Linked DNA regions of Homo sapiens: regions 2, 3 and 4 are each linked to region 1. Evidence: fine-mapped expression QTL. A gene starts in region 1. Each other region holds a variant in brackets. All regions are shown on one strand. Distances are from middle to middle.

Region 1 (6,342 bases):
GATAAAACTACAAATACATTTTCCCACAGAAACAATATCACAAATAGCAGTCAGAAAACTACTCACTAGTAACAGAAAAATGCTGGCCTGAAAAAAATATATAGCTCCAAATGAGAATTTATCCATTGGAATATAGGCTGTGGTGCAGAAGCTGCTTATTTTTCTAAACGGCAATTGACAGATCCATCAGTATACCGCAGAAGCTGCTCCCATTCCCTATGCAGAACATACTTGCTGAGGGGAGACCTAGACTAAAGTCGAAGAGGTGGACCATAACCACTTATGGTGATTTACCCACTCATTTATCCAACAAAGTCGGATGTTACAGTGGTGGCAAAGGACAAGCAGGCAAAACCCATCATCATAAGCATGTTTTACTACACTGTTAGGTGACATTATATTTTGTTCTATTTACAGCCAATTCAAAAAACCTTAAAGCATTTCACTATGCTTTATATAAATTATAAATGCTAAATGAGTGGTATAGCAATAAGCTACCTTTAGAAATTGCTGGGGAAACCACGGTCTGTGATGAGGTGGGACACTATGGGGCAGGGCAGAGTGATGATGGAATGGATTTGGATTGAACTACCATCAAGAGTCTACGGCCATACCACCCTGAACGTGCCTGCTTTTGTCTGAAATACCATGGGAAAAAAAATAGGATTGGGTCTTAAATGTCTCCTAGTTCTGCAGGCTTTCTCATATACTTTTTCCACTTCTATAACATCAACTGTACTTATATACTGATGAATCAGAAAGAAATGAAGGTTAGGTGAAGGGCAGGGAAGTGTAACCTGATATCAAAGGAACACCTGGCCTCATTGTGAGAAGGGGGTCATAAACAGGCCAACTCCCCTGTTCATATTAGTAGACTGCAAATTCAGCTCCTGCTTTGTTCTTCCTAACTAACCCCTGGATTACTATTCTTCCAGCCAGCCAACATACAGTACTTTTACTCTGCAAAGCCTGGGACAGGTACTGACTTTAACTTCCCCCTATTCTAAGTGACAGTCCATTTCTTTTTCAGGCACCAGTGCATTATCTTTGGGCATTAGTTCAACCCAACCTCCTCTCCATTGGCAGTGTCTTCACTCTCCCTTTTATCTCTGGGGAATCCTGCATTTATACCTACTCCAAACTCCACCTAGGTTTCCTATTAAAATAATCCCTTTCAAAGATTCCCAACACGCAGCTTTTTAAAGTCAATTCCAACAGAAACATTTACTTAGGACAGTCACACTTCAGTCACACTTCGGGAGGCACAGAATCACCTGGGGGAGCTAGTTAAAATACAACTGGTCCCACCCCCACAGTTTCTGATTCGTTAAGTCTGGACTGAAGCCCCGTAATTTGCATAATTTGTAAGTTCTCAGGTGATGCTGAAGCTCCAGGTCCTGGGCAACGCTTTGAGAACAGCTGATTTTGGAATATTTACATTTTACAAGTCATCACAACCTAAAACAGCTGTTGCTCCATCCCAGTGGTAGCTCTTAATCCCTACTTTTTAGTAAGAGGTCTGTGATTCTTAAGTACCGGTAGGGAAGAAGAAATAAGCTGGAGTTTGGGATCATTAAAATTTTGAAGTGTGGGGGTAACGCTGGAAAGACGTCAAGGCTAATTAGGAAGAACAGGAGACGGAGAAAAGAAAGAAGTCTTACACATTTTAGCATTCATAAGAAATTTCTCCAACACATCTTACTTTGATGTGTCTTAGATAAAGCAGTATCACCATGAAAACTGCCTATTCTTCCCAGAGCACTCTCCCAACAGCACTGCCCAGCGCTCCGCAAAACTCGGCCAATCGGTGTCAAAACAGTCCTGCCAACCCGACAGGAGGAGGCGGTGGGCAGCGTGCTCCACAGCAACACCTAAAAAGGGCTGGGTTTGGAAAAAAGCTGAACTCAGATTTGAACTGTAAGTAAAATTCCCACCTGCTCCCCAAGTCCGCGCACTTAAGGAAAATAAATCACACCCTGAAAACACTAGCACAGGTTGCAAAAACTGCTTCTTGCGGACCAAGTAGGCAGAACAAACTGCCCTGGAGAAGGGAGACGACACGAAAAGGTGCAAAGGTGGCCAACAGGTGCGCGAGCTGTTCGGCAAAGATCCTGGGAGCCCTGCTCCACTGGACCGGGGGGCAGCGGGGTCGGAGAGCGGGACCAGCCGTGAGGCGTCAGCCCCAGCCCGGTGGGGGTGAGGACGAGGGGCGCCGGGGAGAGGGAGCCCGGCCAGCCGGCAGGGGCGCCCCTTCGGCGGAAGAGGGTCGCCGAAGACCCTCTCCTCACCTGGTTGAGCTCGTTCTCGGCTGCAATCCGCAACTTCGGGTCGATGGTGCCCTTCAGCGCCTGGATGATCCGGTTGAGGTCCATCTCCCCGGGTGGGGGCTCCGCGGCCCCCGGAACAGTAGGCCGGACTGCAGCTTTAGTTTTCTTTTGACCCTCTCAGCCTCCTCTTCCGCGACCCCTGGATTACCTCACACCCCACCCCCCGCCACCGTCGCCACCTGCGGCCACTTGCTGCGCCACTCTGACTCCGCGCCCCCTGTCCTCCCTTTTTCCCCCCCACAACTCGCTCTCCATTCACCGTTTTACGACAGCCGGTGGGAGGCGGGAGAAGGAAGAAGAGGAAGCAGAGCTTCCTTTACGGCGGCCTCTTCCCCCGGGCGTGATGCTATGACCGCCTCCCGTCGGCGGCCGCCATGCTGCTGTACGGAAAACGGCCTAGGCTTCTTTCCCGGAAAGGAACCCGCGCTCCCGAACTCAGGCAGGCGGCCGCTATGCTTCCGTACGGTAAACAGCCTCCCGCCTCTTCCCAGGTGAGGAAACTTGAGCTGGCCGGGAGTCTGCTTACAGCTGCTTCCAAATTAAGCATATCTGGATGGTGTGACACTTTTTGTTAGTCCGAGAACTGTATGGGCATCGCAACTGGGCCTGTTCCAAGATAGACTTGTTGGGACCTTCAAATCATGTACCTTACAGGAGGACAGGGTTCCTCCGTGTGTGGGAGTCATCGTTCATTCATTCATTCGCTTTCACTGAACATTTGTTAAACATATATTTTTGAACCAGAGTACTAGGATTTTTAGGTACCACATTATAACAAGATGAATTCCATGCAAGTTAATGTGAAGGAATTCACAACCTGATAGATGAGACAAATATAAACAAAAAAAATTTACAGTGTAGAAATGATAGGGGAGTGCTGGGAAGGGAAGAGCGTGGTCCCTTTAAATGATAGGGATGGGCGAAGTGAAGTGCTGGGTAGAGGAGTGTGTGGTCCCTTGCTAGGGCTCCACGCCCACCGACCTAGGTGAGGACTGACACTCCTGCCTTCCAGCCCAAATGTTGCATTTCCCAAGACCACCCTGGCCTGCCACTCCCCCATACTGTGCCTATGAAAACCCCAGACCCTAGCAGGCAGGTACACAGGCAGCCAGACGTCCAGAGGAGCATAAGGGTGGAAGAAGAGGAGCTCGCTGGCACATCCGCAGGCCATTCACGGGCAGAACGATGCGGAGGTTGGCCTGGGCAGTCGGAAAAGAGCCCGGGCCGCCAAGCGGCCTAACTCCAGAGGAAAACCATTTCCCTTCTGGGTCCCTCATCTGCTGAGGGCTACTTCCACTCAATAAAACTTTGCACTCATTCTCCAAGCCCACGTGTGATCCAATTCTTCTGGTACACCAAGGCAAGAACCCAGGATACAGAAAGCTCGCTGTCTGTGCGACAAGGTAGAGGGTCTAATTGAGCTGGTTAACACAAGCCCCCTAAAGGCAAACTGAAAGAGCATCCTGTAACACACACCCACTGGGGCTTCAGGAGCTGTAAACATTCACCCCCAGACTCTGTCAAGGGGTCGGAGCCCCACAGCCTGCCGGTCTGTATGCTTCTCTAGAGGTCTGAGCAGCGGGGCACTGAAGAAGCGAGCCACACCCCCAATGCACGCCCTGTGAGGGGGACAAGGGAACCTCTCCCATTTCAGAAAGACAAAGGTCACAGAAACTGAAAACTACATCCCTGAGAGTTTTATGAAAAATTTTCAGACCTTCTCAAAAATGTAGTGAAAGGTAAGCAGAAAAGTTATACTGTTTCTATCCACTGTGGCCATATCTGGCGCCACAATTTCAATGGCATGAAAATATCAAGGAGCTGGTTCTTCCTGAGGTTAACCCAGAAGAGAGGGTTCTAATTACATTTAATAAAGATGATGATGTGGGCAAAACACAGCTGAGGGGCTGTGATCTTTTCAGGAGCAGATAATTAAGATAGATTGGGTCAATTAACTGAGTTCAATTGAGAGAGTAGAAAACATGTGGCTGAAAACTTGGTGGCTTGAAAGCTTCCCCCTCAGTTGGATGCAAAAGTGCTTCACAGTGAATTTAACATGTCTAATTGCTTCCAGTATTGCCCCTCTTTAATCCATTATTCACACTATCATCAGAAGAAAGTTTCTGAAAAGTTAATATTACTATGTCTCTTCCTTGATTTCTCATCAATTTCAAAATAAAATATAAACTTAGCACTCCAGAGTCTTATGAACACTATTTCACTAAACCACTCTCTTGGACATCATGAATGTCTAAAAAATTTTTTATCTCTGAAAATCTTAACTCCAATATCCTCTTTTATAATTAGAACTAATTCTTCCATTTCTCTCTTCCTCAAAAATTCTAAGCTTGTTTTCCAATTCAATCACTACTTCAGTTCTTAGTCTATCCATTACTCACTACACATCATTCTCTGCTATTAAACCCCCAATTCAGCTTCTTAACTCTAGCCTTGACCCACTGTGCAAACTGATATCAGATGTATTCTTTAATCAGATGCAACCATCCTATTCCTATTCCTTGCCTTTAATCAGCAACATCTTCCATTCCCTCAGTGGCGTTTCAACTCTCAGGACTCTTCTCAAGCTCCCTACGCCTTCTCACCAAACCCTGCAAAGATGAGCAAAACCCTCAGGCTCAACTCAACAACAAATTCATCTCCGCTTATCCCTCTTCATCTCCTCTGCAGTCTGAACCCCATTCTCTCCCATCTCCTCCAGGACCCTGTTCCATAAATCTCTCCTCTCTTAAATACATTTTTTCATTAAAATAAATTTTAGTCATTATAATGTGCTCATTGTTGACAATGTGTAAGTTTTTTTCGTACTTTTTCAGCCTCTTTTCCTCCACTGATTCAACCTCAGCCTAAAAACATTTCCCCCAGCAAAAAAATAATCTTCAGTAATGCTAATTATTGCTCATTCTTTTCCACTTCATTCCAAAGAATGGTCTTCATTCACTGTGTCAGCTTACTTCCCATTCATGCTTCAACCACCTATCCCCAGGCTTCTCCCCCTCATTTCCCACTAAAACTGCCAAGCAAAGATGAACACCGACCTCTTTAGGGGGTATACCAACTGCAAGAGACATTTTTAGTTCTCAACTTAAATTTTCTCTCTCTCGCGCGCGCGCGCGCGCGCGTGTGTGTGTGTGTGTGTGTGTGTGTGTGTGTGTGTATGTATAGAGAGAGAGAGAGATTGAGAGATTGGGGGAGGGCGTCTCACTTCCATTGCCTAGGTTGTAGTGCAGAGGCATGATCACTGCTCACTGCAGCCTCGACCTCCTGGGCTCAGGTAATTCTCCCACTTCAGCCTCCCAAGTAGCCGGGACTACAGGCACATGCCACCACGCCCAGCTTTATTTTTAGTAGAGACAGGGTTTTACCACATTGCTCAGGCTGGTCTCAAACTGCTAGGCACAAGCAATCTGGCAGCCTCAGCCTCCCAAATTAGGATTACAGGTGTGAGCCACCACACCCAGCCTCTAATATCCGGTATCATATTTCATACTATTTTTAAATTATCTCTTTTCTTGTTTTCTCTTACAGAATACATTCCTAACCCTTTGATTACTCAATCGCCCAAGTCTTCGACGCTTCTCAGGACTCTGTCCTCAGCCATCTTCTCTTTCTCATCCACCCATTTTTCAGTAATTTCATCCACTTACATAACTTTAACCATCAACTAAACAAAGATAGCTTACAAAACTAGTTGTAAGATCTCTTCCCTTAAACTAAATATATCCAAATGCCTATACATTTCTACCAATATCTATCCCTCAAATCACTTAAGGCACATGTCTAAAACTGAACTCAGCACTGAAGATGATAGATTGGAGAAGGGAGAGACTTAAGGTAGTTATTCCAATAACATAAAAGGAGAGATCAAAAACGGTGACACCACCAAACGCTGGTGAGGATGTACAGAAACTGGATCACTTATATGTTGGTGGTAACATGTACAGTGATACAGCCTTTCTGAAAACAATTGGGCAGTTTCTTTAAAAAACTGAATATG
Region 2 (6,342 bases), 67 kb before region 1:
ATAAATGAAGACCAGAAAACAAAAGAAAAATCGACAAACTGAAAAGTTTTTTAAAAAAGATAATCAAAATCAACAAACCCTTAACTAAACTAGGAAAAAATAAGATAAAATCAGAAATAGGAGATATAACCAATGCCAAAGAAATTTTTAAAAGGAACTAATATGAACAATTACATGTTAACACATTGGACAACCTAGAAGAAATGAGTAAATTCCTAGAAACATACAAGCTACCAAGATTGAATCAAGAAGAAATAGAAAGCCTGAACAGATCAATAACAAATAAGGAGACTGAATCAGTAATTTAAAACTTTCAATCAAAGAAAAGCCCAGGGACCAATTGGAAGAAGAAACCACTGAATTGGAGGCAGTGAAAAAAGGCAACTGGAGCGTACTTTCCAAGAAGTTGCACACAGTGAGATAGCTGAGGAAGGGCCAAATTACTTAGGGTGGCCAGGTGGCCTCACACTTCCAATTCCAGCTCTTTGTGAGGCCAGGGTGGAAAGATAGTTCAAGGCCAGGAGTTCGAGACAAGCCTGGGCAACATATTGAGTCCCTGTCTCTACAAAAAATTTAAAAAATAGCCAAGCATGGTGGTGCTTGCCTGTACTCCCAGCTACTCAGGAAGCTAATGTAGAATCACTCACTTGACCCCATGAAATCAAGCTGCAGTGAATTGTGATCGCACCATTGCATTCCAGCCTGGGCAACAAAGTGAGACAGCCATAGTTGCCCTTTGTGCTTCTTCCTCAAACATAGTCTATCTACAGAGTATAAGCCATCTCTTTATTTATTGATTTTGCAGCCTTTCTTGCTAGCAGACTGCCTAGAAATTTCCCAATCCACCCAGGCAGCATTTGTACAGCAGTCTCAACGGAGAGAGTAAGGTGGAACAGAAAAGACTGCTATTTAAGGCTCATCTGGAATAATTTTTAATGCACGAAACATTCATGCATACACACACTTGCACGCACATGGTCCTAATACATGGCCAAGTTTCCCTTTTATGCCTGGATTATTCAGTCTCCCTTGCTAAACAGAAAACTGTACTATAATTCATTATATTACTTAATGACAATTTAAAATAACTGTTTTCCTATCGCAAGAACAAAAAACCAAACACCGCATATTCTCACTCATAGCTGGGAATTGAACAATGAGATCACATGGACACAGGAAGGGGAATATCACACTCTGGACTGTGGTGGGGTGGGGGGAGGGGGGAGGGATAGCATTGGGAGATATACCTAATGCTAGATGACGAGTTAGTGAGTGCAGCGCACCAGCATGGCACATGTATACATATGTAACTAACCTGCACAATGTGCACATGTACCCTAAAACTTAAAGTATAATAAAAAAAATAAATAACTGTTTTCTTAGGAATCTTCACTGATTAACAATGTAATGGGTCTTACCATCATGCAAGTACAAGTATGTGCCCCATGACCTTTCAGTCAATAATGGACTACATAAATGACAGTATGCACATAAGAGAATGGAGCTGGAGAATTCCTATCACCTAGTACTTACTATACTTGTTATTTTAGTGCATACTCCTACTTATTAAAAAAGTTAACTGTGAAACAGCCTCAGGTAGGTCCTTCAGTAGGTGTTCCAGAAAGAGGCATTGCTACATAGGAGATGACAGCTCCATACATGTTACTGCCCCTTAAGACCTTCCAGGGGGACAAGATGTGGAGGTGGAAGACAGGGATATTGGTGATCCTGACTCTATGTAGGCCTATGCTAATGTGTGTCTTAGTCGCTAATAAAGTTTAAAAAGTAAACAAATTTTAAAAATAGAAAAAAGCTTATAGAATAAAGATATTTAAAAGGAAAATGTTTTTGTACAGCTGTACAATGTGATTTAAGCTAAGTGTTATTACAAAAGAGCTAAAAAGTTAAAAGTTCACAAGTTACAGTAAGCTAAGATTATTGAAGAAAATTGTTTTATAAATTTAGTGTAGCCTAAGTATACAGTTTTATAAAGTCTACAGTCGTGTGCAGCTGCAGCAATGTCCTAAACATTCATGTTCACTCACCACTCACTCGCTCAAAGCAGCTTTCAGTCCTGCAAGCTCCATTCATGCATTTTTAACTTTTATACCACATTTCTAGTGTACCTTTTGTGTTTAGATACATAATTACTTACCATTGTGTTACAATTGCCTATAGTATTCAGTATAGTACAGTAACATGCTGTACAGGTTTGTAGTCAAGGAGCAATAGGCTATCCCACGTAGCCTAGGTGCGTAGTAAGCTACACCATCTAGGTTTGTGTAAGCAGACTCTAGGATGCTCACACAATAACAAAATGCCCATGAAGCATTTCTAAGAACATATCCATTACCGTATTACCAGTCCAGTTTTGACCAGTAATAATTTGATAGTAGACCCATCAGAAAATTGCACCATTTTAGTGACATCTTCCTTTCCTTCGAGGTCCTGCTGTGGTTGAACGCCCTGTGCCTTTCCAGAGCTCCAACACTCTTCTGTGCGGACCTCCTGGTTCATGAGATGGGCTTTCACTTCCTACTTCTCCCCATGTATTAGCTGTTCCTGATAAGCCCTGGTCACCCTCCCAGACCTACAGTCCACCTTGCTTCAGGTCACCAGGTGTCAGGAAAACATACTGATGGGTTATTATCAACTGCTTAAAGCACCTCCACATTTCAGAAAACATTTCACACACAAAAGTTCAGAATCCTGGGAATCAGTCCGCATTTTATTTTATAGTACATTCATATAAGTTCCTGCATTTCCAAGGTAACCAGGTCACATTCAGGTTAGCACTGCTGGTAACAAAATCATACAACTACCCTGGCTTCAAAAACAAGATAGGGTAATGCACATTAATATCTCTTTCCCTTTAATACTGCAGAAGACAATACATCACAAAATAAAATCTCAAAAATCACATGCCTTTTACAATCCAGTGTGAAGGCATATTATTTATGTTAAAATTAGACCATGTGGAACATGAGAATAAAGAGTTTGAAAGCTCTCTAAAATTTCTCCCAATGCCATCTTTCGCTTCTAACTGCCAGTTGGCACATTCAGCTTCAATGCCTTGGGAAGGGAGGAGCAGAGGAAAGCAGGGGGTCACTGAACTCCAAAACTCATGGTTTTCCAGGCTACTTCTATAGACATCACTTAACCTAAAATTCTAAAGAGTTAATATGCATGAGGGAT[G/A]GTAATATAGGAAGCACCTGAAAAAAATTCCTCCAGTCACTGATGGGAAATTTAAGCTGTGAATTTTTGTGAATTTTCAATTCCACAGAAAGCAAAATCTGTATCACATCCAGTAATATGTTAAGTTCTGAAGATACGTTTTCATTTTGCTGAATAAAAACCCTATGACCCATGTTCTGGTCTTGAACTAGGTCAGAAAAACACTGTAATCTCCATATGCAATATTTCCTATAGGCAACCTAAAAGTGCAGCTGCCCCAACCCTTGAAAAGTTTGAGAAGTCAAACTGAGCTATAATAAAGACACAAACAAATTAGGTAGGAGAAAATTCAAATAGGTGAGAAAGCAAGAAGTTAGATTTGTTTGGGTCTTTTTCCTAGATTAAAAAAAAATATTATAAAATGCTTTGGACCCTAGTCCAACATAGCTGGAATGATAAGTTATTTAAAATACAAGTCCCCATCCAGAAAGACAGTGTGCTTACGTAGCACCTGTCTCTTAGAAGTTCAATGTGCTTTAGGTATGATTATCAATTAATTGCATAATTACATTATTCAGAATATACTCAGACTTACTGTTAACTCCAGTGACTAAAGAGCCCCTGCCACTTGCTGCCAAGAAAATGAGTCCTGAACTTACAAGGTTAGGAGTGAAACTGATATGTGTATTTGTTGACCCCAAAAGAAATACCACCCCTTTTCAAGGCAGAAAAAAATGAGAGAAGAGGGAGTAAGACACTTCTTTAAAAAGCCACAAAACATCTTATGAAAAACCACAGCCAGTGCATATTTTATAATACAACCCCTGAAAAAAGCCCCCCAGCAGCAGGGTGAGCAGAGGGAGCCGTGAAGATTTTGAAACCAGAGTGACTTGCAGTAACTGCCTAACAATAAATTCACAGAGTAAAATGCAGAATAGTTGACATATAACCAAGGTTTATGTTGTATCTAGAAATATGTTTTATGCTTTAAAAAAAATTGCAATGCACTCCAAAAATTTTTTTCTGATAATTCATGTACAACAGAAGGCACTGTTATCCGCATAAATCCATTGATTCTGCATGGCAAAAACCTGAGACGTGCAAGTCTATCCAATCCTCTAAAACAACCTTGGGCATTCAGCCTTTGGAACATATGGGTTGTCCTTTTCCGTCCAATGATTGTTTTTCTTTCATTTCATACTTACAGTAGCTGTTTAAAATATATATTTCAGGGTGACAAAGGTCAAAGGGGAAAGAGTAGATAAAAGTGCTGCCTAATGCCAGATGGTAACTGGCACAGCAGGAGGGCCCTAAAAGCAGCCCCTCATTTCATCCCCTTGACCCTCACACTCCTCTTGTGAAATAAAATGCAGCGATGACATTTGGTCAGCTGATGTTCTTTCCTTCAGTTGTTGCTGGGCACAGTCCCAAAATTAAATGCGGAGAGGACTCCTTTGTTTTCAAAGGTGAAGCCTCCCTGTTGTTCAATCTTCTTCTTTGCCTCTAGCATTTTTCAAAAGAAAAGGGGAGAAGAAAAAAAAAGAATGCTTAAGGTGACAAAGTTGGAGATGACTCAAAGGAGCCAGATTCTTTATATGCTTAGAACTGTGAAAGAATGTGACTGGTAGTATTAGTTATCCTGCCAAAGAATAACTAAGAATAACAGACCTATGTCAATAAGGTGGTATGTTCACTACCATCGGAAAATCTGCAAAAAACGAGTGAAAAGAAAACACGTCTCAGAGGTGGATTCTACTTCACTGTCTCTACTGCTGAAAGGGGGCCCAGACTTCTCATATCAGGAAGGCTGACTGAGAATCTGCACAGAACTGAAAATCTAAGTCCATGCAGAAGAGCCAGCATTCTAAACTCTAGATGTCTAGTTTGCCATGTTTCCTACTAAAATTTTTTTGTAACTACAAAATCTTTTCCAATGACAATCTACAAGTAACTACAATAATCAACACAGAGTAATTCCTCCAGCTTAAAAACTGAAAATCAACAACAAGAAACAATGTCAAATAAAGCCCAACAATGAGAAATAGAGAGCATTCCATTTCCAGGAATACAAGCTCCTTGCAAGAATTCGTCAAGTCCCTTTGGCCCACGGTTGAAATGTTTAGGGGAGTGATCCAACTGATTAAGTCTCCCTCGGCAAGACTTATCCCAACCCTTACTTTGTACCTTTGCCTCCAACATAGGATAAGAATGTGAATGAGAACACCACTAGGAAATACATATTAATGTGCAGGTTTTTGCAAAGCTAAGACATCATGAGTGATTAAAACAATCATACAATAATGACAATTCCTTATTATCTTAAAGGGTAAGTCTCTAACAATTTCAAAAACAGTGTTTAGGTGCCACCTGGCTCATCAAATAAGGCTGTCTGTTGGCACTCTGACACATGCACTCCACTCTGGAGGTTACTCTGGCTGACCTGCCACCGTCCGTCGGTGCTCTGCCAGTGTGTACACCTCCTGCAGTGCTGTCCTCTGATCCTCGCTGAGTGGTGCCATCAGCAGCTGGTACCAGGCTGCATCTCGACTCTGCACAGCTGTTGCATTTTGGGAGGAAAAGACAGGAGGGTACAGCGACTATTAATTTACAGAACAAGTAGTAACATGATCAAATTACAAAGAAATTATCCCAGACAGTAAGAGACAAAGAGTACAGTACTACAACACACACAAGGTAATGAAACTTACGCCAACAAAGGATTATTTCTGAGTACCCACTTAGTACCCAGCTATGTGGGAAATCAAAGGAAGGTTAGGACATTGCAAATCTCTAGTCTGCCTAGTTCTCTGTCTCCTTTGCTGTCTTCTATGGATGTTCTCTAAAATCCAGAACACCAGTACTCACTTGTTACCATTTTCCTCTGGAATTTTCATACTACCTGCAGCTTTAGTATTGCTACCACCCCAAGGATTCAAATCTGTACCTCTAGGAAAAACCTTCCCCTAAGCCTCCTGGACTGTTCCATTTGAATAGCTCATCTCAAACTCAACACAACTAAAACCAAATTTAACAATTTCCTCCCAAACCTTCTATCTCTCCATTTATCTCACCAGTTCTATTAGTCTCCCAGTCCACTACTGTGCATCCTTAACATCCCTGAGCATGCCCTCTCCACACCCAAAGCTCTGCTTCTTTCTTAATGTCTTT
Region 3 (6,342 bases), 34 kb before region 1:
TTTTGGAGACAGAGTCTCGCTCTGTCCCCCAGGCTGGAGTGCAATGGCATGATCTCGGCTCATTGCGAGCTCCGCCTCCCGGGTTCATGCCATTCTCCTGCCTCAGCCTCCCAAGTAGCTGGGACTACAGGCGCCCGCCACCACGCCAGGCTAATTTTTTGTATTTTTAGTAGAGATGGGGTTTCACTGTGTTAGCCAGGATGGTCTCGATCTCCTGACCTCGTGATCCACCCGCCTCAGCCTCCCAAAGTGCTGGGATTACAGGCATGAGCCACCGCGCCGGGCCTTATCAAGCCATTTTTAAGAACCAAGTCAGCCGGGCATAGTGGCTCATGCCTATAATCCCAGCACTTTCAGAAGCCAAGGCGGGCATATCACTTCAGGTCAGCAGTTCCAGGACTGCCAGACCAACATGGTGAAACCCCTTCTCCACTAATAATACAAAAATTAGCCTGGCGTGGTGGCAGGCAGCTACTCGGGAGGCTGAGGCAGCACAATCACTTGAACCGGGAGGCCAAGGTTGAAGTGAGCTGAGATTGTGTCACTGCACTCCGGCCTGGGCAACAGAGCAAGACTTGTCTCTGAGCAAGACTTGTCTCAAACAAATAAACAAAAAAAAAAAAACCAAGTCATCTTCCATTGGCACGTCATAAACACAGGATAAACCAACAGCTACGGCTGGGCACGGTGGCTCACACCTGTAATCCCAGCACTTTGGGAGGCCGAGGTGGGCGGATCACGAGGTCAGGAGATCGAGACCCTCCTGGCTAACAAGGTGAAACCCCGTCTCTAATAAAAAAAATTCAAAAAAATTAGCTGGGCATGGTGGCGGGCACCTGTAGTTCCAGCTACTCGGGAGGCTGAGGCAGGAGAATGGCGTGAATCCAGGAGACGGAGCTTGCAGTGAGCAGAAACTGAGCCACTGCACTCCAGCCTGGGTGACTGAGTGAGATTCTGTCTCAAAACAAAAAAAAAAAAAACCCACAAAATCAAAAAAAAAACCCAACAGCTACATGGTTTAACAATGCTATTTAAAGTAGTAGTAGCAGCCAGGCATGGCGGCTCATGCCTTTAATCCCAGCACTTTGGGAGGCTGAAGCGGGTGGATCACCTGAGGTCAGGAGTTCAAGACCAGCCTGGCCAACGTGGTGAAACCCCATCTCTACTGAAAATATAAAAATTAGCTGGGTGTGATGGTACACACCTGTAGTCCCAGCTCCTCGGGAGGCTGAGGCAGGAGAATTGCTTGAACCCGGAAGGTGGAGGTTGCAGTGAACCAAGATCATGCCACTGCACGCCAGCCTAGGTGACAGAGTGAGACTGTCTCAAAAAATTAAATAAACAAATAAAAGTAGTACTAGCACCTGCTTCCTAAGTGCTCACCTTGTAAAACAATAATTGCCATCAGTGCCAAACAAGTCAACTTGCACTCACAGAAGCAATGAACAAAAATCTAATTTGAGTTAAGGAGAGGCCATGGGATACTTGGGAAGCAGCTGTAGGTTTTAAATGGGGATAAACTGATACATTATCAAAATGATGTGACTACAAACCCAAATGTACAACTTACTAGCTCTGGGACCATGAGCAAGTTTCTTAAATCCACCTGAACTTTGTTTTCTGCTTCTGCAAAACAGACTACCATTACCTGTGCTAGCTATGTCATGGTGGCACCAGTAAGATCATATCAGCTGATGGATGTGAAAGCACTAGATAAATAGCTGTATAAAGTCTTATCCCAATAACACTTTGGAATTCAGTTGAGTAAATATGCTTTTCAGCTCTTTCATTTATTCCTTTCCATTTTTACAGTACTTGTTATATCAGAATTCTGTTCCATTACCTAACACTTGCCACTGTGATTGAACTGCTGTCTGTCACTCTCTACCAAGAATTCTAGATTGTTGGTTCCCAGAAAGCTGGGCTCATTTCTTATTCAATTTGGTATTCCCCAAGAACCTAGCCTGGCACATAGCAGATATGATTAACTGAACTCAAGTTAATATAAAGGGATATACTATATACTTTATAATATTTACATTATAATATTACAAATATTATGATGTAATATTATAATGTTACTCAGTCATTTTAATATGTTTCCATAAAATGTGAGGGCAATTTTTAAAGCCTAGCAACATAACTAAGTAGCAATTTAAAAGTGGAGACTTCAAAATTCATGGCCACTGATCACATAAATTTCAGTTAAATGCTACTATTATATCATAAACCACAAAGAAATCTCACCTCTTTATGATCTTCTACAACTGTTAAGATAGTATCAATGGTATGTAAAATTCCCATAGCCATTACTGTTTTGTCTTCAACTTCTTCATATTCATCACTTTGAAGAACTTTGCCAAATATCTCAGCCTATGAAAATAACATTAAAGTATTCCGCAATTAGTAGTACTGTTACGTCCCCGCTTTACAAAAGTTAGCAAAATGGCAGTGTCACACATCTGAAGTCTGCATTGCTCAAACTTTGAAGTCTGCACTTTGCTGACTGAATCATCTCTCTTCTTAAAATAACAGAACTTGTCATGTTTTAAATATAGCTATTTACATTAACTATTATATCCAGAGAGCTAATATTTAACTTCTGGTTGTCACTAAGCAAGTAAAATCACAATCTAGGACAAGTGAAATCAAGTAATAGTAAAAAGAAAAATGCAATAGAAGATTGAGAAGTCGAGGAATCACTTAGAAAATGAAACAAACAAAAAAAAAAAACAGACATGGAAAACAGGAGGAAAAGTTTTTAAAAAAATTAAGAGACACAGTCCAGATGTGATTCTCCATATCAGGAAATACAAACAGAAAAAAAAATAGTAAGGAGAAATTTATCAAAAAAGTAAAACAATAAATTGCCCCAAACTGAAGGAAATGAGCTTCCTGATTCAAAGCCCAGAAATTAAAACTTTAGAAAGCACATATTATAAAATTTCAGAATATTCTAGATGAAAGAAATTATCCTAAATGTGATTAAAGTCTAATGAACTATAGTAATATCAGAATAATTTTTTTATCAATATTTCAGTTACAGTCATGCATCGCTTAACATGGATATATTTTGAGAAATGTGTCGTTAGGCAATTTCATCCTTGCTTGAACATCATTGAATGTACTTAGGCAAATCTAGATGGCATAGCCTATTGCTCCAAGGCCACAAACCTATACAGTTTGCTAATGTAGTGAATACTTAGGCAATCATGACACAATGGAATTATTTGTATCTAAACATACAAAAGGTACAGTAAAAATACGGTATTATAATCTTAGGAGTGCACCATCGTATATGCAATCTGTCATTGACTGAAATGTTGTTA[A/T]GCAGCACATGACTGTACAAATAAAACTGAACTCCATATTTTGGAGTTTATTTAGATTACTCAAGGTTTCTAAACCAAATTAACATAAAACTGCCCGGTCTTACCAAGTGTTGGGTCATATCAACAGCAATTGAGGCTACCTCTTGACTGTATTCACATATCATCTTCTGGATGACATTAGTAACATCATCATTTTCTGTCTCTCTAACAATGTGCAACAGTTCCTGCATAATAGGCCTCACATGTGGCTTCATATATTCCTTAGCTAATTCAATAAAACAAACAAAAGTAATAAAAATTACCATGCCCAGATGATAAAAGGAATTAACTTGGTCACAAGGTCAAGTGACCCAGGGTAATACCTAAATCAGGTTCTAGATACACACTTGCTCTGTGGTAAGTTACAAAGCTGTACCTAAATAATGTTCACCAATATATCAGTTTCCCAAGAGTAATATAAGGATAAGAAGTCCTGCACAGGAGAGAACTGTCCTGTGCAGAAACTATCCCAAAATACTAATAGCCCCCACTGAGAAATTCTAATTATACATACACTTGGTCATCAGAATGACTTGGAAAACATGAATCAGTTCTCATGACAAGTTATAAAAAATCATGTACGTGAAGACTATCCCGAATACTGATGGGGCCCCTTCCCTGCCCCAGGCCATCTCTACCACCCTCCCTTGCCATGTGTACAATATCCAATCCTCCCACTGAAACATTGCTGAATAGAGGCAAACTACGTTCACGTTCTTCATAAAGCTGAACTTACTTTCAAAGGTTTATTTGAACTTTGATCAGAACACTGAACAAATGAGACGTCTGTTATCACTCACTAGAAATACTACTTGCTACTTTCAAAACTAGGGGAATCAGAATCCCAGAGGTGAAAGGAATCATGAAGTCATTCAGTCCAACTCCCCTAAACTTAAATATGTGGAAACCTGAGCCTTGACAGATCACACACCTTGCCCAGGTTTCCATGGCAAGTTAGGAGCAAAATCAAAACTGGGCCCAGGTCTCTTTATGCCCAGCCTATCCTAGGGCCCCACAATGATTAACATGTTTCCTAACCTAAAATTCTGAAAACTACAGTCAATAGGAACACCTAAAAAGGACAAGAATAAATTCCTACAAAATTCTGAGAGGGCAAAACCTCAGAATTCCAAACCCTGAACCCTCAGACATGGAGATGCATCTTCATTAGGGAAGAAAGTAAATGAAATTATTTGAGAAGATGTCTAAAAGGTATTTTGGCTTTACCTTGTATCTGGTTAGAAATTAAAGACTGAAGAGCAAGGGCAGCTTCAACTTTGACAGGCATCTCTTTATCTTCAATCAGGCTCTTCTTCGCTAATTCAACGGCATTTCTTAGATTGAGCTCATTATGGAACTTCAAAGAACTAAATGCATGAAGTACCCAGCAAGACTGTATTATTAAAAAAGGTAAGTAGGGAGCTATTAGGATTATAGCATTCTGTAATAATATCACAGATATAAGAACTTCTTAGTAAAATATCAATTCTATGAAGAAATGTTTGCTTTTGGGGTAACACAGTAGCCTTAGTTTCTAACTTCTACATCCCCCTTTTTACAAGTAAGGCATTTTCATTACTTCTAAATTACCCATATGCAATAACATTTTTCATAGGAAAGAGAAAAAGAAGCCAAATATGTCTTTGACAAAAATCTATTTACGCTTTTAATAAATATTATAACTCATAATTAATTTGTTATATGTAAAAGCAACTCCAAACCAGTATCTGAAATTCATTTGTCACACTTAGGTAAAACATTATTTTCCCTTACACTAACTGGTTTAGTAAGCTTCCTTTTTTTCACTCTCATAGGTACCAAAAATTTTAAACCTGGTATAGATGATCACATTTTAACTATTAGACCACAGAATCATTATTATATTTTACTCTCTGTGTGCATCAAACACAATCAACAGAAATTAATTCTAGTTACTAAAGACTTTTAGCAAGAGAATCACAATTCATATAACTTCTCAAAGGTAGGAGCCCCACTGTAAAAATGCTCATGTGCCCTCAGCGTCCCTAGTCCACATTTGCCCAGATATTGCGCTAGTAACTATTATTTTATAAAATGCTTTCTAGTGTACAAGGCATTGTTAATATATGTTGTTTTTAGCAAGACATTTTTGTGTTGATATATTTATAAAGAGAAATGCTAGGCTCTTGAATAAAAGTCCTGTTTCTATTTCTCCATAAAATATATTGATTCTAAAAGAATATACACATAGAGCACAATTTCACATGGATTATTAATCTCTCCATTTTACTAAGGCAAATCTACCTAATATACTGAAAATCAAATTCAAGTTCTTAGCCAATCTGGAATTTCATGTCATTTTATACACAAAATAAATCCATTTGTGAATTTAAATTGTATCACTGCTATAAAATCACCTTTCTCATTTCATGTTTTACATATGCAGCAAGTGAGGCTAGGGTGACAAATGAAATAAAACCAGCAGGAAATAAAATCCATAAATATTTTCCTTTTTTTTTGAGACAGGGTCTCACTGTTGTCCAGGCTGGAGTGCAGTGGCACGATCTCAGCTCACCGCAACCTCCGCCTCCCGGGTTCAAGCAATTCTCCTGGCTCAGCCTCCCTAGTAGCTGGGATAACAGGCGCCTGCCATGAAGCCCAGCTAATTTTTTGTATTTTTGTAGAGACAGGGTTTCACCATGTTGGCCAGGCTGGTCTCAAACTCCCGATCTCAAGTGATCCGCCCACCTCAGCCTCCCAAAGTGCTGGGATTACAGGCATGAGCCACTGCGCCCAGCCTATAAATCTTTTTCTTTAATAGTCTGTCCTTTATTCAGCTGATGTGACCATAGGCAGACATTCTAATTGACTCTATTTCATCTCAATATGTGGCAAAAGGTCAATTTATCCAAAAAACATTTATTTGAATAATTATCTTATGAAGATTTAAGATACATAACAGAAATATGAAAAACTTACTCTAGCTCGAAGATAT
Region 4 (6,342 bases), 87 kb before region 1:
AAATTTCAGGCCAGTGTCCCTGATGAACATTGATGCAAAAATCCTCAATAAAATACTGGCAAACTGAATCCAGCAGCACATCAAAAAGCTTATCCACCACAATCAGGTTGGCTTCATACCTGAGATGCAAATCAACATATGCAAATCAATAAATGTAATCCATCACATAAACAGAACCAGTGACAAAAACCACATGATTATCTCAATAGATGCAGAAAAGGCCTTCGACAAAATTCAACAGCCCTTCATGCTAAAAACTGTCAATAAACTAGGTATCAATAGATGTATCTCAAAATAATAAGAGCTATTTATGACAAACCCATAGCCAATAGCATACTGAATGGGCAAAAACTGGAAGCATTCCCTTTGAAAACTGGCACAAAACAAGGATGCCCTCTCTCACCACTCCTATTCAACATAGTATTGGAAGTTCTGGTCGGGGCAATCAGCAAGAGAAAGAAAGAAAGCATATTCAGACGGGAAGAGAGGAGGTCAAGTTGTCTCTGTTTGCAGAAGACATGATTGTATATTTAGAAAACCCCATTATCTCAGCCCAAAATCTCATTAAGCTGATAAACAACTTCAGCAAAGTCTCAGGATACAAAATCAATGTGCAAAAATCACAAGCATTCCTATACACCAATAACAGACGAATAGCCAAATCATGAGTGAACTCCCATTCACACTTGCCACTAAGAGAATAAGATACATAGGAATACAACTTACAAGGGATGTGAAGAACCTCTTCAAGGAGAACTACAAACCACTGCTCAACAAAATAAGAGAGGACACAAACAAATGGAAAAACATTTCACACTCATGGATAGCAAGAATCAGTATTGTCAAAATGGCCATACTGCCAAAAGTAATTTATAGATTCAATGCTATCCCCATCAAGCTACCATTGACTTCCTTCACAAAATTTGAAAAAGCTACTTTAAACATCATATGGAACCAAAAAAGAGCCCGCATAGCCAAGACAATCCTAAGCAAAAAGAACAAAGCTGGAGGCATCACACTACCTGACTTCAAAATATACTACAAGGCTACAGTAACCAAAACAGCATGATACTGGTACCAAAACAGATATATAGACCAATGGAACAGAACAGAGGCCTCAGAAATAACACCACACATTTACAACCATCTGATCTTTGACAAATCTGATACAAATAAGCAATGGGAAAAAGATTCCCTATTTAATAAATGGTGCTGGGAAAACTGGCTAGCCATATGCAGAAAACTGAAACTGGACCCCTTCCTTACACCTTAAACAAAAATCAACTCAAGATGGATTAAAGACTTAAACATAAGACCTAAAACCACAAAAACCCTAGAAGAAAACCTGGGCAATACCATTCAGGACATAGGCATGGGCAAGGACTTCATATCTAAAACACCAAAAGCAATGGCAACAAAATCCAAAATTGACAAATGGGATCTAATTAAACTAAAGAGCTTCTGCACAGCAAAAGAAACTATCATTAGAGTGAACAGGCAACCTACAAAATGGTAGAAAATTTTTGCAATCTATCCATATGAGAAAGGGCTAATATCCAGAATCTACAAAGAACTTAAACACATTTACAAGAAAAAAAACAAACAACCCCATTAAAAAGTGGGCAAAGGATATGAACAGACACTTCTCAAAAGAAGACATTTATGCAGCCAACAAACATACGAAAAAATGCTCATCATCACTGGTCATTAGAGAAATGCAAATCAAAACTACAATGAGATGCCATCTAACACCAGTTAGAATGGCAATCATTAAAAAGTCAGGAAACAACAGTTGCTGGAGAGGATGTGGAGAAATAGGAATGCTTTTATACTGTTGGTGGGAGTGTAAATTAGTTCAACCATTGTGGAATTCAGTGAGGGAATTCTTAAGGATCTAGAACTAGAAATACCATTTGACTCAGCAATCCGATTACTGGGTATATACCCAAAGGATTATAAATCATTCTACTATAAAGACACACGCACACGTATGTTTATTGTGGCACTATTCACAATAGCAAAGACTTGGAACCAACCCAAATGTCCATCAATGATAGACTGGATTGAGAAAATGTGGCACACATACACCTTGGAATATTATGCAGCCATAAAAAAAGATGAGTTCATGTCCTTTGCAGGGACATGATGAAGCTGGAAACCATCATTCTCAACAAACTATCACAAGAACAGAAAACCAAACACTACATGTTCTCACTCATAAGTGGGAGTTGAACAAGGAGAACACATGGACACAGGGCAGGGAACATCACCCACCAGGGACTCTCAGGGGGTAGGGAGCTAGGGGAGGGATAGCATTATGATAAATACCTAATGTAGGTGATGGGTTGATGCCTGCAGCAAACCACCATGACACGTTTACACATATGTAACAAAACTGCATGTTCTGCACATGTACCCCAGAACTTAAAATATTAAACACACACACACACACAAAACAAAACAAAAGAAAAAGAAAAAGAAACTGTCAACACAATAAACAACCTACAGAATGGGAGAAAATAGTCACAAATATTTGTCAGAAAAAAAATCTGACAAAGATCCAATATCCAGAATCTATAAGGAACTTAAACAACCCAACAAGCAAAAAAACAAACAACCCTGTTAACAATTGGGCAAAAGACATGAACAGACACTTCTCAAAACAGACATACAAGCAGCTAACACATATACAAAAAATGTTGCACATCACTAATTATCTGTGAAGTGCAAATGAAAACCACAGTGAGATAACATCTCACGCCAGTCAGAATGGCTATTATGAAAATGTTCAAAAACAACAGATACTGGCAAGACCATGGAGAAAAGGGAATGCGTATACACTGTTGGTGGGAATGTAAATTAGTTCAACCACTGTGGAAAGCTGTTTGGAGATTTCTCAAAGAACTTAAAACAGAACTGCCATTTGATTCAGCAATCCTATTACTGGGTATATATATTCAAAAGAAAACAAGGCACTCACATGTTCATCACAGCAGTATTCATAATAGGAAAGACATGGAATCAAACTAGGTGCCCACCAACAGTGGATTGAACAAAGAAAATGTAGTACATATACACCATAGAATATTACACAGCCATAAAAAGAATGAAATCACATCCTTTGCAGCAACATGAACAGAGCTGGAGACCATAATCCTAAGCGAATTAATGCCAAAAGCAATTTCAACAAAAACAAAAATTGACAAATGAGATCTAATTAAACTACAGAGCTTCTGCACAGCAAAAGAAACTATCAACAGAGTAAACAGACAACCTACAGGATGGGAACAAATCTTTGCAAACTATGCATCTGAAAAAGGTCTAATATCTAGCATCTATAAGGAACTTAAATTTACAAGAAAAAAGAAAACAATCTCATTAAAAAGTTGGCAAAGGACATGAACAGACACTGCTTAATAGAA[G/A]ATATAAATGTGACAAACAAGCATATGAAACAAGCATATGAAAAAAATCTCAACATCACTGATCATTAGAGAAACGCAAATCAAAACCACAATAAGATACTATCTCACACCAGTCAGAATGGCCATTATTCAAAAGTCAAAAAAGATGTTGGTGAGGTTGTGGAGAAAAAGGAAGATTTATACATTGTTAGTGGGCATGTAAATTACTTCAACCATTGCGGAAGATGGTGTGGTGATTCTTCAAAGGCCTAAAGACAGAAATACCAATGGGATAGACCCAGCAATTCCATTACTGGTTATATACCCCAGGGAATATAAACCATTCTATTATAAAGACACATGGATGTGTATGTTCACTGTAGCACTATTCACAATAGTAAAGACATGGAATCAACTTAACTGCCTATCAATGATGGATTGGATAAAGAAAATGTAGTACATACACACCATGGAATACTATGCAGCCATAAAAAGGAACAAGTTCATGCTCTTTGCAGGGACATGGATGTAGCTGGAGGCCATTATCCTTAGCAAACTAACACAGGAACAGAAAACCAAACACCACATGTTCTCACTTAAAAGTGAAAGCTAAATGATGAGAACTCATGGACACATGAGAGGGGAACAACACACACTGGGACCTAGTTGAGAGTGGAGGTTAGGAGGAGGGAGAGGATTGGGAAAAATAACTAATGGGTACTAGGCTTAATACCTGGGTGATGAAACAATCGGTGCAACAAACCCACATGACACAAGTTTACCTATGCAACAAACCTGCACATATACCCCTAAATTTAAAATAAAAGTTAAAAAACAGGCCGGGCACGGTGGCTCACGCCTGTAATCCCAGCACTTTGGGAGGCCGAGGTCGGTGGATCACAAGGTCAGGAGATCGAGACCATCCTGGCTAACATGGTGAAACCCCGTCTCTACTAAAAATACAAAAAATTAGCTGGGCGCGATGGCGGGCGCCTGTAGCCCCAGCTACTCGGGAGGCTGAGGCAGGAGAATGGTGTGAACCCAGGAGGCGGAGCTTGCAGTGAGCCGAGATAGTGCCACTGCACTCCAGCCTGGGCGAAAGAGCGAGACTCCGTCTCAAAAAAAAAAAAAAAGTTAAAAAACAAAACACAATAAAAACAGTGCTGTAATAGAGAGTCTTGTAAGTGACTCCTTTTATGCCTGTGCAAGAGTTTATCTTGGTAGGAGTGAAATTTACAGGTTATAGGATAATGGCTGTTTAAGTTTTCAAGTTGTTGCAAACCTGTTTTACAGTGGTTGTGTCAAATGACACTCCTGTTAGCAATAGAGCTTTTGATCTCATTTCTTGCAACAGTTAATACTATCTAATTACTTGGAATATTCAAGAATTCAGAGAATGTTGTTGATGTGAATTCTTCTTAAGAAAACTAGGGGAAAAACTAACCAATCATGAATGACCAGGGAAACCTCAACAAAAGGACTTCTCATGGGCATCAAATATATCTACCTGTAAGCTATAAGATGAAAACAATGGGGAAAATAAAGGTGACAGAATAGAATGAAAGTGATATAAGATTTGACGACATAAAACTTTTTTAAAAAGCAAAGATGGGGAAAGAAAAGGTGGAGGAAAGAATAAGCTCGCTAGTTGCTTCATCAATTATACCTGGCAAACAAGAGATAAATCAAGTTGAAAAATCAAGCTTTAGAAGTATAGCATACTTAACAATACAAAAGTAAACACTAAGAAAGACAGTATTATCAACTAAAATTGTATATTTGAGGGGAGGGATGAAGAGGGAAGAAAAGAATATAAGTTAATTTTAATGCTAATTACATTAAGAAAATTATAGATATAATTTTTTTTTTTTTTTTTTTTGAGATGGAGTCTCACTCTGTCACCAGGCTGGAATGCAATGGTGCAATCTCGGCTCACTGCAACCTCCGCCTCCTGGTTTTAAGCGATTCTCCTGCCTCGGCCTCCCAAGTAGCTGGGATTACGAGTGCGTGCCACCATGCCCACCTAATTTTTGTATTTTTAGTAGAGATGGGGCTTCACCATGTTGGCCAGGATGGTCTCCGTCTCCTGACCTCATGATCTGCCCGGCTCAGCCTCCCAAAGTGCTGGGATTACAGGTGTGAGCCACCGCACACAGCCAAATTATAGATAATTCTAAAGAAAGAAGAGAATAGGCTGGATATGGTGGCATGCATCTGTGGTCCTAGCTACTCAGAAGGCTGAGGTGTGAGGATCGCTCGAGCCCTCGAGGTCAAGGCCGCAGTGAGCCAAGATTGTGCCACTGCACTGCAGCCTGGGCAACAGAGCAAGACCCTGTCTCAAAAAAAAAAAAAAAAAGAAAGAAAGAAGAAGAAGGAAGGAAGAAGGAAGAGGAGGAAGAGGAAGAAGAGAAGGAGAAGAAAGAAGAGGAAGAAGAAGACCACGATGAGGAGGAGGAGGAGGAGGAAGATGATGATTATGGTGTAATATGCAGCCACTAGAACAAAAAAGAGAGAGAGAGACCACAAAGGAGAGACTTTTTAAATGTTACACATGTAAGACTATAGAACTATAATTGACCATACCAATGAATGTAGGTAAGTCTTTTACCTAGTAAAAGAAAAGACATTTTCAGATTGAGTCACAAATCTATGTCACAAACCCAATTCCTATGCTATTCACAAGTCAGGTTGATGTATTGTGCACTTAAAAATTTGTTGAGGGTAGATTTCATGTTAAACATTCATACAAAATCCACTAAAAAAAAGAGATAGGCACAAGGGAACTTTGAGGTGATAGAAATGTCTATTACCTTGATTGTGGTGGTGGTTTCATGGGTGTATGCATATGTACAAACTCATCAAATTGTATTTAAATATGTACAATTCTTTGTATATCATTTATATCACAATGAAGCTGTTTTTTAGAGTGGCACCTTGAAAG

The links.
Region 2: its variant is fine-mapped to the expression of IPO8 in whole blood (INTERVAL, PIP above 0.99).
Region 3: its variant is fine-mapped to the expression of IPO8 in whole blood (INTERVAL, PIP above 0.99). The same link has a PIP of 0.9 or more in blood mononuclear cells.
Region 4: its variant is fine-mapped to the expression of IPO8 in whole blood (TOPMed, PIP 0.94).

The regions. Positions count from the first base shown.
Region 1 is chr12:30,693,276-30,699,617 of GRCh38, forward strand. It overlaps IPO8 (importin 8), which reads right to left and starts at 2,594. Exons shown (of 25, transcript NM_006390.4): 1 at 2,289-2,594. The coding sequence starts at 2,372. RefSeq lists a silencer at 2,344-2,393 and an enhancer at 2,484-2,983.
Region 2 is chr12:30,626,281-30,632,622 of GRCh38, forward strand. IPO8 (importin 8) reads right to left here. Exons shown (of 25, transcript NM_006390.4): 24 at 5,615-5,731; 25 at 2,708-4,677. The coding sequence ends at 4,580. Among named protein-coding and RNA genes, the nearest start is that of IPO8, 66 kb to the right of the region's middle. The variant G/A (reference allele first, on the strand shown) is at 3,196.
Region 3 is chr12:30,658,894-30,665,235 of GRCh38, forward strand. IPO8 (importin 8) reads right to left here. Exons shown (of 25, transcript NM_006390.4): 13 at 6,327-6,342; 14 at 4,596-4,761; 15 at 3,434-3,594; 16 at 2,248-2,373. Among named protein-coding and RNA genes, the nearest start is that of IPO8, 34 kb to the right of the region's middle. The variant A/T (reference allele first, on the strand shown) is at 3,330.
Region 4 is chr12:30,606,127-30,612,468 of GRCh38, forward strand. No RefSeq gene overlaps it. Among named protein-coding and RNA genes, the nearest start is that of IPO8, 87 kb to the right of the region's middle. The variant G/A (reference allele first, on the strand shown) is at 3,423.